Homo sapiens: one gene and its partners. The protein of the gene in region 3 purifies or fractionates together with the protein of the main gene of each other region. This does not show direct contact. Each region holds a gene or a part of one and is shown on either strand. Other genes may lie near its edges.

Region 1 (3,500 bases), on a different chromosome or scaffold from region 3:
ACTTTTATTTATTTCACAGTTATATTACACTTTCATGAAGTGACTTCTTTCATGATATTTGAAATATCATGTCAGAAATTATGTCAAGAGGTCTGCCAATGCCTACATTTTATTGAAGATGATTAACCCTGACTGTATCTCTTTTTTCTATAATAAATTCTATTTTTAAAAACTTCATTAAATTTTATTGAGAAAGCCTCTACTTCATGTAAAAGTATCCATTTGAATGTTTTATCCCAGAATTTTATCATGCTATTAGAATAAAAGATGCTACTATATATAGCTGAACAGCACTCATTGTATTATATATTTTATATAAATAACAAAATTTATGTTTATGTATATGTAAATTTTTTATATTAGCAGACATCTGCCTTATCAAAAAAATATTTTAATAGTTTACATATAGCATTGATAAGGTTCTTGTCTAAATAACCTACTGTACCCTTTTTCTTTGTAGTGTTTATAATGAAAAGTTTTAATGAATTGTGGCATAATAATCTTTTTGTACCTTTTTGTGTCAGAATTGAGCTATTGTATTAAAAATAAGAATGATATACCAAGATGACTGAAGCCTCAGAACTAGGATGCCATAGCCATTATGTCCAAATTAAGCACATCTAGTTCAACTATTCATTTATTCAACATACGTAGTTGTTAGAGAACCTAAGTGCAAGACATTGTGCTAGTGGCAATGAAAGAAGCAGAAAGGGGTATTGCTTCTGCATGTATCTGTCTTGATAGGGAAAAAAATGTTGCAGAGGCATAATAGATCTGGACATCATATTGCTTCCACACTATTTATTCAAATGCATGAGTTTATAGCTTTGTACCTTTTAGAAGCATGTATCTATACAAAAGCTTCTAGATTAGCTATTTGCAGGTTAATGCCAACCAGACTCTTTTTTTCCCCAGTCACATAGTTGACACCCACCTAATCTTTCGTAACTTCTGTAATTCCACTAAAAAAAGATTTAGGCCGGGCACGGTGGCTCACACCTGTAATCCCAGCACTTTGGGGAGGCTGAGGCAGGCGGATCACCTGAGGTCAGGAGTTTGAAATCAGCCTGGCCAACATGGCGAAACCCCGTCTCTACTAAAAATACAAAAAAATTAGCCAGGCGTGGTGGTAGTGGCGCACCTGTAATCCCAGCTACTCGGGAGGCTGAAGCTGGAGAATTGCTTGAACCCAGGAAGCAGAGGTTGCCGTGGGCAGAGATCGCGCCATTGCACTCCAGCCTGGGCGACAGGAGAGAAACTCCGTCTCAAAAAAAAAAAAAATTAGGGATCAAGTTTGCCTCCTACAGTTGTGGCTGTAGAATTAAGAGAAATACCTGTGCTGAAGTTTAACAGCCAAGCCCCAAATAATGATAAAAGCATTTATTTACCTCTATGACATTTTTATATTATTATTTCAAGTAATCATTTAACAGTCTGCTATAAAAATTGTTCTTCTGTGGTAGCCACATAAATAGTTTAAATGAGTTAAATTTATCAGCATCATTAGATATTACCACAGGAAGATTTGTTTTGACTGTGACTCTTCTCTCTCCTCTCCCCCTCACACCTGTGTCTGCACAGTATTCGCCTGGGAATTTTTCTCCGAAGATACCCCATAGCGCGAGTTTTTGTAATTATATATATGGTAAGTAAATTTATTTGAAAAAACAATGATGCACTTGATTTTTAACTAGTTTTTTTTTTTGTTTGTTTGTTTGTTTTGGCTACAGATCTTATTGATATTTTAGCAATCAATCAATTTTTTTTTGTTTTTTTTGAAACAGGGTCTGGCTCTTTTGCTGAGGCTGGAGTTCAGTGGTGCAGTCTTGGCTCACTGCAGCCTCTACCTCCCAGGCTCAAGCCATCCTCCCACCTTTGCCTCCCAAGTAGCTGGGACTACAGGCGTGCACCACCATGCCCAGCTAATATTTGTATTTTTTGTAGAGACAGGGTTTCACCATGTTGCCCAGGATAGTCTCAAACTTCTGGGCTCGAGTGATCCTCCCACCTTGGCCTCTCAGAGTGCTGGGATTTCAGGAATGCGCCAACGCACCCAGCCAGCAGACAGTTTGGAAAGAGAGAACTCAGTTTTAGTAATTAAGATTTCTTTTGGTAGAGTATAAATTGACAATTCATTATGTCTAGAATATAAATTCCTCAAAGGCTTTTCCTACAAATAAAATTAAACGCAGTCTAATAGTTACCTCCATTTTAAAGCCCTTCTAATGATAAAAACAATTTGAATACAAAACAATTTTTTATCTTGACGTTGTAAAGTTGCTTTAATTGTTTTCATGTGTTTTGCTTTATTTTCTAAAAGAGCCTCAAGATTGATTTACTTTCTCCCAGATTTCTTACCTCTAGTAAAATGGTTACGGTAGTTTGGGATGCCATTTCGCATGTACCGTGTGCCTAAAAAGGCTGCTAACTATTTGGAGTGGGTATGTCTAAAAGTAGTTGGGTTGAATGAAAATGGGCTGTTTTCTTGAAAAGAAATTTCTTTAAAAAGAAATTTCTCTGTGATCCACTAGAGGGAAGAGTTATTCCTTTAAATACAGGTTTTGTGTTGTTTTTTTTTTCTGAGACTGAGTCTCGCTCTGTCACCCAGGCTGGAGTGCAGTGGCATGATCTTGGCTCACTGCATTCTCCACCTCCCAGGTTCAAGCGATTCTCCTGCCTCAGCCTGCCGAGTACCTGGGGCTACAGGCGCACGCCACTGCACCTAGCGAATTTTTCTGTGTTTGGGAGATGGGTTTTCACTATGTTGGCCAAGCTGGTCTCAAACTCCTGACCTTGAGTAATCCGCCCTCTTCGGCCTCCCAAAGTGCTGGGATTACAGGTGTGAGCCACTGCACCTGGCATAATAACAAGTTTTTAAGAAGGAAAGCGTGGGGAGTACAAAAAAAAATTGAATGGCATCAGAAAGCATTCAGAATATGCCCCAGAGGGGTTGATTTCCCAGGTGTTAGTGATGATGAGTAACACGGGCACTGTCATGAGATGGTGCCCATGAGATGTGATTTCTGGCACACGACAAAGTGGTGAGGCACTTAGTGATGGAATCTCGTATCATTTCGGTACTACCATGAGGGAATTAAATTTGTCACTATGAATCGTGTTCTGGGCCCTACATCAGCCTCTGAAACGACACATTATTTCTGTCTAGAATATTTTCCCATCTCTTCTTCACCGAACATTGGTTAAACTCTCTTTCAGAATACCAACTATAACTGTTCTAAAAGTGTTTTCTAACCAACTTCATGTGTATCTAGCAGTTTTAATCACTCTGCATTATAATCAACTGATTATTTTGCATACACGTGCATATTGTGAATGTGTTGAAGTTCAGAGCTGACTCCTCTCAACTGAATTCTGTAGGAGTAGCAAGTCTTTATTACCTTCCATTGCACTGAGCTCATTTAGTTGTTTCATTCATTCCTTCATGTGTCCCATAGGGGATACAGAGGCAGGTAAGACACAGTGCCTGCCCTCAGTGTACA
Region 2 (3,500 bases), on a different chromosome or scaffold from region 3:
GGGCCCTGGGGTTTGGTCGTCTCCAAGGGGGAAGGAGAACGAGGGGCTACAGACCCTGTTCATGCCCTGTGGCTAGGGATAGGGGTACTGAAACCAGAAACAGAGCCACATCCACTGTCCTGGGGACTGGCCTGCTGACGCCCACTGCCTCACAGTGTGACTGGGTTCCAGCCTCAGTTTTCTCATCTGTGAAATGGGGGTGGTTGTGCCCACCCTGTAGAGGGTGTGAAGACACTGTGTACAGCACCTTATGGTTCTGGGCACAGCCTTGGTGGATGCAGGCTCCTGGTTATCGAGCCCTGTGAAGTGCTGGGGGCGATATCTGCCCTGCCTTATTTAATCCTCATGTCACCCTAGGGACAGGGAGAATTATCTCGATTTCACAGAGGGGGAGGGGGAGACCCTGGGAAGCCCCTGCTGGGTTGCTGGCAGGATCACAGGAGCCAGGGGTGGTGACATGTTCTGTGTCTCCCCCACCATCTCCTCCAGGTACTGGGAACGTCAACATCGAGGAGGCCGAGAAGCTCTTGAAGCCCTACCTGAACCGGTACCCTAAGGTGAGCCCCATGTGCTGCCCGGTACCCCCAGCCCACAAACACCCACAGACCCCACGGACCCACACGGACTTACATGTGTGTCATTGCAGGGTGCCATCTTCCTGTTCTTTGCAGGGAGGATTGAAGTCATTAAAGGCAACATTGATGCAGTGAGTGATGGGGGTCCGGGCCGGGGCTGGGGATCCCTCGGGGTCTCCCAGACCAGCAGGAAGTCAGGCACATGTGACATACTCAGGGACAGGATAGACTGGGGGCGGGGGGGGGGCCAAGAGAGAACCAACCAGAGAGCAGGGGCAGGAGAGGCCCTTCTGGCAGAGCAGCCTGGGAAGACAAGGGAGGAGGAGGCATTTGTGGTGCCTGGGATTTTGACTGGGAGATATAGGACTGCAGCATTGCAGTGGAGGGAGGTGGAGGGAGGTGCTTGAGGGAGGCAGAGGTTAGGAAAGCCCATCTGTTTAGGGCATGACGATTAGGCTGGAGTCTGGTACCTCCCCTCCATTATAGCTCTCTCCTGCTCTTTCATTTTGTTACTAAAAACCAGAGTCCTAGGCGGGGGCTGTATTTGAGCCCAACGTCATGTAAGACTTAGGAGGTAAAACCAGGACTGGAGGCCAGATCTCCTGGCTCCTGGGGCCCCACCTGAGCCTAGCACAGGGCTGGACCACTATGCCCTGGAGGAGTCCCGGTCTGCTGTGGTGTTGGGAGGTTCGGAGGATGCAGAGGGGTTGGGGCTGGGTGGGCACCCGTCAGGCTGACCAGAAGGTGCCTGCAGGCCATCCGGCGTTTCGAGGAGTGCTGTGAGGCCCAGCAGCACTGGAAGCAGTTCCACCACATGTGCTACTGGGAGCTGATGTGGTGCTTCACCTACAAGGGCCAGTGGAAGATGTCCTACTTCTACGCCGACCTGCTCAGCAAGGAGAACTGCTGGTCCAAGGTGGGCTGATGCCACGTGTTAGGGGCATTGGGTGACCAGGGCTGACTGTGTGCCTCCAGACCACGGGCCAAATCCCTAACTGAACACAGATGTCTCAGCTGGAATCTAAACATAACCTTAAATTCTAATAGGACTCAGGCTTGGAAGGAACTAAAGACCACAAGAGAAACTTCTGAACCACAATGTGTCACAAAGAGATTTCTAGTCACAAAGGACAGAAACATGGCTCCCTCTGTCCAGTAGAACTGTTTCTGTGGTAGAAATGTTCTACTTATGCACTGCCCAAATATGGTAGTCACCAGCCACATGTGCACAATGAGCACATGAAATGTGCCTAGTGCAACTGGGAAACTGATTGTTTTCAGTTTTATTTAATTTTAATTAACTAAATGTTAAATTTAAATAGCCATGTAGGGCTTGTGGCCACTATATTGGACTATGCAGGTCCAAAACACAAAAGGCTCATATAACTGAACATTCTTGGCACATCCGACTTCAGGTAGGGCTGGATCCAGGAATTCAAATGATGTCGTCTGGCTTGGTCTTTCCATTTGTGGCTGTGCTCTCTCCTATGACATCTTTGTTTCTGCTGCATCTTTGCAGGAAGGTTCTCTCCATGTGACAGGCAAGGTGGCCACGGGCTGCTTCTACTCATATCCTCCCCTTGGTTTCAACCAGAGTCCCACAGTTTGAGCCTCACTGGTCTGACTTGTCACCTGCCAATGCCTGGAACAGAGGGGTGGGAAGATTCCTCATGGGCTGAGAGTAGGAGAGGGGTGGTTCCACAGAAGAAAATGATGCACCCAGAAATAGTGGAGGGATTAACAAGATGCCATACAGGCAAAACAAAGCCAAACAGATGCCCGCCTACCAAAGATGAAATTTATCATGGTAAGTATTGAAATAAGTGTTAGCTTGTACCATCATAGTAATGATAGTGCAGAAATTGGAACCAAGAGTCTTACAACCACCTAGCTCAGCAAACGTCTAATCTGTTATTTGTAAATACACAGGACATGTGTCTTCATGGCTTCATCCCCTGCCCATAGCAGACATTGCTAATCAATCCTCTGCCATGAGCCTAGCTGTGACCTTAGATACCTTCCCTGCAAAGCTCCAGGCAGCCGTTAGAACTGACCCACATTGGCACCTGTTAGGAGACCTGTCATCTGCATCTGGTCCCTCCCCCTCCTCTGCATGGAGGTCTCTTCCGTAGCCCTGCCTGGGGACCAAGCTGAAGGGGAATTCTCTGGGTCTGGGGCAGGTGGGGCTGGGGAAGGGAGCAGGCTTCTACTGAGCTCTCAACATGTCTGGCACCTGTCATGTCCTCCACACCACACCCAGTGAGGAGAAGTTATTATCTCCATTGGGCACATGAGGGCCACTGATGCTAAGCGAGGACTGTGACTTTCCCACCCACATGGCTGTTGGTGACAGACACCGGATTTGAGGACAGTCCTGTGTGACTCAGAGGCCTCTGCTTCTCTCTTGCTCCTAGAGTCCTCCTGAGGAGTCGGGGCTTGCCCTGAGCCCACCCTGCTGTTGAAGGTGCTTCCTCAGGCCCAGCTCCCATGGCCCCCACACCCCCTCCTCATCACCTCCTACTCCCAAAAAGGACAAAGCCTCAGGGAACCTTTTTTCTTTTTTTAGAGACAGGGTCTTGCTATGTTGGTCAGGCTAGTCTTGAACTCCTGGGCCCAAGCAATCTTCCCACCTCTGCCTCCTAAAGTGCTGGGATTCTGGGCCTTAGGGAACCTTTTTGAACTGAAAGTGACTCTCGAAGCCTTCCTGTAGAGTGAGGTGGGTGGCTGGGGCTAACCATATGGGGAAGGAGAGACCTGGTGGGGGCACACAGCTGCTATATAGAGGAACAGAAGGTGGGCCAGGCCTCCCAGCTGTCAGGAAATCTGGCTCAGTCCCCAGACCGCTGTGTGGCTTTGGGGTGGCCAGTCCCTCTCTCTCTGCAACACTCTCCTCATGAGGACTTCTGTGAAAAATGGGGGTTGTAA
Region 3 (5,419 bases):
CAAGATTTTAAATTGCTTTTTAAAAGATGACTTCTCAGCCATCCTCATCCCACATTTCCTGGGAAATAAAAGCAGAAGTCCTAAAAGAGGACAGATAGAAATTCAGTGTCTGCATAGCTTTGAGTCCAGTGTTTGAAGACAATCTCTGATTGTGAAGCCCTCTTTTTCTCTCCTTCTATTTCTCTCTAGAGCACTCAAGACTTTACTGACGAAAACTCAGGAAATCCTCTATCACAAAGAGGTTTGGCAACTAAACTAAGACATTAAAAGGAAAATACCAGATGCCACTCTGCAGGTTGCAATAACTACTACTTACTGGATACATTCAAACCCTCCAGAATCAACAGTTATCAGGTAATGTTATTTCTACAAGTACTTGACAAATATATGTATTTACACTCTGATATGTGTGTACATTTTTTCCAAGTTTCTCTTAAAATTGTAAACCTTAATAACTATCAATGCAAGCATGTATTTGGAATAAAAATTATAATTAAAATAGAAGTCTAATTAGTGATGTCAGAGACAATTGTTAATTAGCCTCTTTATTAAGAAAAATTATACAAAGCATAGAAATAAAATATAAATGGTCTTAGTTACTTTGCCTCAAGTATAAAATGAGATTTAAATACAGATAAAGGGAGCTGAAATTCTCAATGTCAAGAATACTTGTTAAATATCTTACAGACTACACAAAATGTATATTCACTAAGTCGAATTTCCAAAACGGTCAGGGATGAACTAAGACCACACAGCAGTAGCAGGAAAGGTTAAAATCAGTGATCTTGTATTGGAAAACATTAGGTTTTGTTTAGCATTATTTTAAAGCGCTAAATAGGTGAGGAGATGCTGAAAATTGAAGCCATACTGTGACAACATGATTCTTAATCGTTTTCCTTCCATAATTAAGGACAGAAAGGAATTCCATGGACATTTTGGGGAATTTAAGTGCTACATTCATTTATCTAAATATCTTTTACACGAAAGTTATTTTTTAAAATTTGTTATTTGTACTTTCAATATATCTCTGATTATTAAGAATATTTTATATAGAATCAATTTCACTTATCTCTGGTGAAATAAAAAGATTACAAACGTCATTTCAAATTCCCAAGATGTAGATGCCATATAGCATATTCAAGTCACTTGTTAAGTTTTCATTATAGCTGCCTATTGTGGTAATAACCTATATTTTATTTTAGCTACCATTACACACTCCATAAATCTGGAAAGTATGCCCTGTTTTGAGGAATGCCAACTCATGACCATATATACACAGGCCATTTCTGACTCTTATTTTTTTTTTTACTGTTTTAAAATTTATACTGAATGATATTCAAGAAAATGTATGCAGCAACTTCAAAACACTGAGGAAAGTTGGAAATAAGATACACATGGGTTAAAATATTTGAAGCAGAATAATGAATCTCCGTGAGGCCAATCTTTGAATGAGTGAGCAATATAGAGGCAGGAATATCTTCCAAATATAAAGAAAAAAGGTCAGCTTTTTTTTTTTTTACTGATTCAGTATTTTATTTAATAAGTTTCCCAAGAGTAATTTTCCATCAATTTCTTCCCCCTTTTTATTACTTTAGGATTCTAACAGGCAATTATCCATCATTTCTCTCTCAACTGTTTTGACGGTACTACAGTAAAAGAAGCTCAGAAATAAGGACGTTGGGGGGAAAAGTGACTGTGAATAGAAACCAAAAAGCTAAAAGGCATGGAGGGGAAGCTAGAGAAGAGTAAAGCACAGCCCCATTATTTCTCTTCCAGCTTTTGCATATAAATATGAGTGAGCTCTAAGACAAAATGTGCTTTAAGAGGCAAACATTCAACAAATAAAAAAATACTAAGCATCTATAACTTCACATATTGTACTTCAGATCATTTCTCTTCAGCAGAGATGCAATATTTGCTGCAATGAAATATTTTGGGATTCAGTTTTCTGTGTTCATACTAACTACTACAATGAAGATGAGAAACCTCAACTTTTAGAGGAGGCTGTGTCCAAAAAAGTTACACACAGAGATAACAGCAATAATAACTACCTTAGGCTGAAAATAACCATCCTCTCTTTTGTTCTCTAGGTAACCAACAAGAAATGCAAGCCGTCGACAACCTCACCTCTGCGCCTGGTAACACCAGTCTGTGCACCAGAGACTACAAAATCACCCAGGTCCTCTTCCCACTGCTCTACACTGTCCTGTTTTTTGTTGGACTTATCACAAATGGCCTGGCGATGAGGATTTTCTTTCAAATCCGGAGTAAATCAAACTTTATTATTTTTCTTAAGAACACAGTCATTTCTGATCTTCTCATGATTCTGACTTTTCCATTCAAAATTCTTAGTGATGCCAAACTGGGAACAGGACCACTGAGAACTTTTGTGTGTCAAGTTACCTCCGTCATATTTTATTTCACAATGTATATCAGTATTTCATTCCTGGGACTGATAACTATCGATCGCTACCAGAAGACCACCAGGCCATTTAAAACATCCAACCCCAAAAATCTCTTGGGGGCTAAGATTCTCTCTGTTGTCATCTGGGCATTCATGTTCTTACTCTCTTTGCCTAACATGATTCTGACCAACAGGCAGCCGAGAGACAAGAATGTGAAGAAATGCTCTTTCCTTAAATCAGAGTTCGGTCTAGTCTGGCATGAAATAGTAAATTACATCTGTCAAGTCATTTTCTGGATTAATTTCTTAATTGTTATTGTATGTTATACACTCATTACAAAAGAACTGTACCGGTCATACGTAAGAACGAGGGGTGTAGGTAAAGTCCCCAGGAAAAAGGTGAACGTCAAAGTTTTCATTATCATTGCTGTATTCTTTATTTGTTTTGTTCCTTTCCATTTTGCCCGAATTCCTTACACCCTGAGCCAAACCCGGGATGTCTTTGACTGCACTGCTGAAAATACTCTGTTCTATGTGAAAGAGAGCACTCTGTGGTTAACTTCCTTAAATGCATGCCTGGATCCGTTCATCTATTTTTTCCTTTGCAAGTCCTTCAGAAATTCCTTGATAAGTATGCTGAAGTGCCCCAATTCTGCAACATCTCTGTCCCAGGACAATAGGAAAAAAGAACAGGATGGTGGTGACCCAAATGAAGAGACTCCAATGTAAACAAATTAACTAAGGAAATATTTCAATCTCTTTGTGTTCAGAACTCGTTAAAGCAAAGCGCTAAGTAAAAATATTAACTGACGAAGAAGCAACTAAGTTAATAATAATGACTCTAAAGAAACAGAAGATTACAAAAGCAATTTTCATTTACCTTTCCAGTATGAAAAGCTATCTTAAAATATAGAAAACTAATCTAAACTGTAGCTGTATTAGCAGCAAAACAAACGACATCCAATTGTCATGCTGCATGCAAAACTACACAGAATTCATGTTTTGCAGAGTTTTGCCAAAATGAGTAATCATATAATATTTACTGTAATTTTTAAAATACATTATCGTTCACAATTTTATTTTTTCATAATCAACTAAGGAAGAACGATCAATTGGATATAATCTTCTTACCAAAAATGATAGTTAAAATGTATATATATCCTAGTCCCCTAACCAAATCCTGACCTATTGGGATACTTATAAAAATTTAAGTAAGTGGGATACACAAAGAATAATAACTATTAACTTTTCATTATTAGCAAAAACCTAAGGGATTTAAACTAATTGAAACTGTATTTGATTGGACTTAATTTTTTATGTTTATTTAGAAGATAAAGATTTAAAGAAGACCTTTACAATAAAGAGAAGAAATATCGAAGTCATTAAAATAAGGAGACTTACTTTTATGACATTCTAATACTAAAAAATATAGAAATATTTCCTTAATTCTAGAGAAACTAGTTTTACTAATTTTTTACAACTTCAATAATACCATCATTGACACTTACCTTTATTAATTAGCTTCTAGAAAATAGCTGCTAATTAGGTTAATGAACATTTTACCTTAGTGAAAAAAATTAATTAAATATGATTACAAAGTTGCACAGCATAACTACTGAGAGGAAAGTGATTGATCTGTTTGTAATTACTTGTTTGTATTGGTGTGTATAAAATACAAAATTTACATTAAACTCTAAATCATTCTTTGTTGTAAATTCTTTGTTCAAAGATATTAGATACCATGACTCACCATACCATATACAACTACATCAAATCCATTTAAGAATTAATGCCAACACCTTTATTACATGTTATTGTGCAAAGTCTCTTCTGAAGATGACTTCTCATTTCAATAAGTTCAAATGTAAATGATAAAACAGGTCAGACTTATAACATGCAGTCTAATTCTACACAAGGCATATTCGCTATTTTAACATAAACAAAACATATAACACATGTGGAAGTTTACATCACTTATCTCAATTTTTTATGATCCTCAGAGGTGACTCTCAAACAGAAGGAGGAACAGACATCAATACCTAAATATAATGCCAGAAGAAATAAAAGGGTGTATTGTTGTATAAAGTTCACTGAACTTTAATAATAATCACTTTTATTGAAACCCTCTACAACCTCTGCTGAGTTCTATTTCATTACGAAGCTGAACTCATTTAACTACTAAGTGGTATTCATTTCCAACCAGCCACATTTCTTTCTCCGGCACCACTAAAAGTGAGCACTCAGTGTCAGTGGAGATACAGAGACAGTTCATATAGTATATAACCTATACACTGCTGGGATAAACAGCAGTAATAATTTCTGCTATGTAGACTAGTACAGTTCACTCTAAAATCATATGCATAAATTTACATGTTCTATAGGAATACCAGGATATTTGAGGTAGAAGACAATCTAGAGATCAACTAATCTAACCTTCTTCTTTTGCATATAACAAAAATGAAAGGCAGACTCATCCCTCCACCCATTCAAGTTGGGGTAGAGCATGGACTGAAACTGACTACTTCACAGTGTCATGGAGGTCAGATGTTCGGAGACTACAGAGGGGACACAAACTACCCCCAAAATCTTTGTCACTGAGATGACAATTTCCACAAGAGATGAAATAAACAGAAATGCTAATAGTAATATGGTATTTTAGTAAAAGTAACTGAAAGTATTTGAAATTACCTATGTTTTATGAGTATGTATATATGCCATGGAAATTTTACATAAAACTCTAAAATCACACTTTGCTGGGATATCTTTATTCAGAGACCTTAGACATCATATACTACATCAAACTAAACCCATTCAAAACAGTGTGAGAGTTAGTATTTATGGAGGGATCATTATACATAAAACATGCCATTATCTCTAGCTTTTGGCATATTAATATATATTAACCCCACATTTCACAGTGAGTTTTACTTTTTTAAATGAAGCCAAATTCTGTAGACTCAGGTCCAGATGTGAAAAGTTCAAAAGATGAGACAACAAAATGTAGTCTTGCCCATA
Region 4 (3,500 bases), on a different chromosome or scaffold from region 3:
CCTCTAGTGCAGCCTTTTAAATTTACCGATAAGAAATCAGAGGCCTGAAGAGAAGTGAGTTGCCTGAAAGCCCACAGCAAGTCAGTGACAGGCCAAGACCAGATCCAGGCTGCCTGACTCCAGTTTCTTCCTCGGGCCCCCATGACCTTTCCAGGCGCCATGTATGTTTCTCCCTGGTCTCAGGGTGAGGGTAGAAGATAACCTTTCTGAAAGAGGCCACGTCCCTGGCCTCCCAGTGAAGCACTAGGTGAAGCCAGGCCAAAAAGAAAGCACTTCTCTGGAGACAGTTTCCAGGAGATTTTTACTTTCGAGAAGAGCTTTATTATTTTTGTGAAAATCATACATGCGCATAGCTTAAAAGATTCAAGCCATTTGGGAAAGTACAACGAAAACAGCAAAAGTCCCCTTTGATTCTACCACTGGGATTCAGCCACTGTTATATGTTGGTAAACATCCATCTGGACATCTTGTACATATATGTAGACATTTTATTTCTTTAATTATCTTTCTTATTGTGTTTGATTTGTCGAGCAAAGTTCATTTTCTGGCTCTAGGTAAGCATTCCAAATAGTGAAACTCAAATAGTGAAGCTGAAAGTGGGGCAGCCTTCATATTGGAGAAGTGGCCAGCCGTGCCTAACGGGCTGTCAGAGATGATCTCATAGCATCAGACTGGGCTCAGGCCTCGGGCACAGAGAGGTCCTCCCCTCCCCCAGTCTGGCCACAGAGCCTTTAAAATCCAGAGAATCAGGGCTGCAGCCCTGCCAGGGGTTTGGAGAACCTTCCAACACCTTCATTTTATAGATGAGCAAACTAAGGCCCTGAGAAGTGTCCTTCGCTCTTAACCTAGACTTTGTACATGGTCTCGTTCCCCGCTTTAATAGAGGAATTGCTTTATGTCGTAGGACTGGACCTTGCTGCCTTTGGGTTGGTTCCTGGAGAAGCAGGAATAACCACCTGCCCTCCTGCCCGGAGGCCTTTCTTCCCAGGTGACTCACAGTGCCACCCTGGGGTGGGGCTCACGGTCAACCTGATAAGGGACTGATAATGAAATTTCTGTACCAACTGGCTCCACACAGGGGAAAGATGTTTTCTGGGTAAGTCTGGTCAGAAGAGGTTGATGGGGGGAAAACAAAACAGACAAAAAAAAAAAAAAAAAAAACAACAACAAAACAACCTTTCCCAGAGAGAACTTTTAGATGTGAATGGGTTTGAATTGACTTCTTGTTGGAAGGCAGGAGCATTCAGTCTTAACCAGCCGTGCTCTCTGGTTGGTTGGTTTGTTCATTAAGTCAACAAATAGTTATTTGATGCCTACTGAATGCCAGGCACTGTGATACCGTGATAGGTGTGGGAAGCAACTATGAACAAGACAGGTTTAGTCCAGGCCTTGGAAGACAGAGCAGTAAATAAATATCACTTGTGATAGGTGCTAAGGAGAAAATTAGGGAGCAAGTGGGGAGGGATGGGCGTTTCCACTTTCGATGATGTGGTCAGGGAAAGCCTTTATGAGGAGCTGACATTTCAGCTGAAGCTCAAATAGAGAAGGAGCCAGCCATAAAGACTTGTCCAGAGCATCCCAGGCAGAGAGAGCCATGAGTTCAAAGTCCCTGAGGCAGGTCGCAAGCATGGCTACAGCAGATGAGGAAGCCCGGGAAGGGCTGCGCTGTGGGTGGAGAGGGTGGCAGGGGCCTGGCTGTGTGAAGAGTTTGGGGTTCGAGTGACTGAGAAGCAGGGTTTCATTGTCAGGCCCTGTGGTCTTGCCATCCAGAGACCTAGATCAGGTGTTGGCTATTCTGTGTGACACTGGGTAAAGGACCAGCTCTCTGAGCCTCCGAGATGCCTCCTCTGTGGGTACCCCAGAGGGCAGTGGGGAGGATCCTGTGAGATGAGAGGTGCCAAAGCACGGGGCCTACTCTAGGGTCCCCCACCCACGGAGGGAGGGAGACTCTAGGCACCCCCCCCCCACGAATGGAGGGAGACTCTAGGGCTCCCTGCCCACGGAGGGAGGGAGAGTCACCTGGGAGCCTTGCATTGCTCAGGGGTAGTTGGGGAGATGAGATGAGATGAGATGAGATGAGATGAGATGAGATGAGATGAGATGAGAACCTCTGGAATCCGTCTTGTCAGAGGAGGCTCCTTTGCCCCTGGGGGTACTCAGCCTGCCTAGAACAGATGGCTATGGAACCAACTCCTCCAGCCAGCTGGTCTGACCCCTAGGGTGTGCATGTGGTCTTTTCCAGAGGCTGGGCCCCTCCCACCCCTTAGTTTCTGGGCTACCATGGCACACTGTCAGAAGCACTAGGCCACAACAGGCACGCGGGGCCAGGCAGGCCGTCTGAGAAGTGTCCTGCTAGGCTCTGAGGGGTCCCAGCCCTCGGTCAGCATGAGTTGTTCAGCTCCAAGCTAGGCCCCTGGGCTGGTGGAGGTGAGGAAGAGACACCGTAGAGACACTGTAGACTTACGATGTCACCTTCCCCAGCTAGAGGGTTGGCCTGTGAAGGAGCTGGCAGCCATCTCTGCCTCTGGCGATGTGCCATGTTAGCCCAGGAACTAAGGGGTGGGAAGGGCCCAGTCCCTGGAAAAGACCACATGCACGCCCAAGGGGTCAGACCAGCTGGCTGGAGGAGCTGGTTCCATCAAGGGCCAGTCTGAGCTAGGCTGCCTGACTGTGGTGGCCTGACCACCACATTTTGCTTCATCTCTTTGGATTCTCAGAGTGACCCTTGAGCTGGGCTGGACAGGGGGTCTTGTCCTGTTTTACAGAGGAGTCTTTGGGAGGACTCTGAGGGCTTCACTGGGCAGGGAGGCCTCGCAGAGAGGAGTGGAGATGAGTCTTAGGAGAGGGAGGGCGGGCTACAGAATGTTTTTTGGGCCTGAGTGTTGAGGTCAGAAATGTCCTCTGGGAAGACCAGGTCTGGAGGCCAAGCAGAGCTGAGGAGGATGAGCACTTCTTGGTTGGCGGGTGAGGAGAAGGTCCATGTGACAAGTCATGGACAACTCTCTGTGCCTTGGTTTTCTTGTCTGCTGGGAGGGGATAACTGTTGTGCTGCCCACAGGGGTGAGGCTTAGATGAGGCAGTGCCCACAGAGCGCTGAGTGGGCATCTGGCTGGGTAACCGTTCATGCAGATGCTGGGAGGAGACGCCGTCTGCCACGTGTCTCACCACAGTTTGCTTCATCTCTTTGCATTCTCAGAATGACCCCATGTGCCTTGTCCCATTTTATAGAGGAGGAGACTAAGGCCCTGAGCGGGGAAGTAACTTGTGTGAGAACCATCATTTGCATGTGTTCCTGGGACAAGAACTGTTTCACTGTGGGAAAGGTTACTGTTGGGTTTTAATTTTTTCCAAAAGGGACTTTCTCGCCAAGACATTTGCATCTGGGCCTGCAGGGAAGCAAGTATTTCACTGGAGGGTGGAAGGAAAACAGCCTTGGCCCAGATGGGCTTGTTTTTCCCTCTTCAGAGCCCTCCCACTTCCTGCCTGGGAGAGCAGGAACC

The links. Proteins that work in one complex are often made in the same cells at the same time.
Region 1: the proteins of P2RY12 (region 3) and GOLGA5 purify together in Homo sapiens (affinity purification with mass spectrometry; 3 studies listed by BioGRID and IntAct, with this or other methods). This does not show direct contact.
Region 2: the proteins of P2RY12 (region 3) and TTC39A purify together in Homo sapiens (affinity purification with mass spectrometry; 3 studies listed by BioGRID and IntAct, with this or other methods). This does not show direct contact.
Region 4: the proteins of P2RY12 (region 3) and TSPAN15 purify together in Homo sapiens (affinity purification with mass spectrometry; 3 studies listed by BioGRID and IntAct, with this or other methods). This does not show direct contact.

What each region holds. Positions count from the first base shown.
Region 1 is NC_000014.9:92,835,805-92,839,304, forward strand, and holds part of GOLGA5 (golgin subfamily A member 5), read left to right. Parts: intron 1-1,581; coding exon 1,582-1,645; intron 1,646-3,500. UniProt on the Homo sapiens protein: Involved in maintaining Golgi structure. Stimulates the formation of Golgi stacks and ribbons. Involved in intra-Golgi retrograde transport.
Region 2 is NC_000001.11:51,299,563-51,303,062, reverse strand, and holds part of TTC39A (tetratricopeptide repeat protein 39A), read left to right. Parts: intron 1-489; coding exon 490-557; intron 558-646; coding exon 647-706; intron 707-1,329; coding exon 1,330-1,491; intron 1,492-1,846; exon of another isoform or gene 1,847-2,217; intron 2,218-3,500.
Region 3 is NC_000003.12:151,335,531-151,340,949, reverse strand, and holds the end of P2RY12 (P2Y purinoceptor 12), read left to right. Parts: intron 1-127; exon of another isoform or gene 128-189; 5' UTR 190-354; intron 355-2,090; 5' UTR 2,091-2,104; coding exon 2,105-3,133; 3' UTR 3,134-4,107; downstream 4,108-5,419. UniProt on the Homo sapiens protein: Receptor for ADP and ATP coupled to G-proteins that inhibit the adenylyl cyclase second messenger system. Not activated by UDP and UTP. Required for normal platelet aggregation and blood coagulation.
Region 4 is NC_000010.11:69,457,965-69,461,464, forward strand, and holds part of TSPAN15 (tetraspanin-15), read left to right. Parts: intron 1-3,500. UniProt on the Homo sapiens protein: Part of TspanC8 subgroup, composed of 6 members that interact with the transmembrane metalloprotease ADAM10.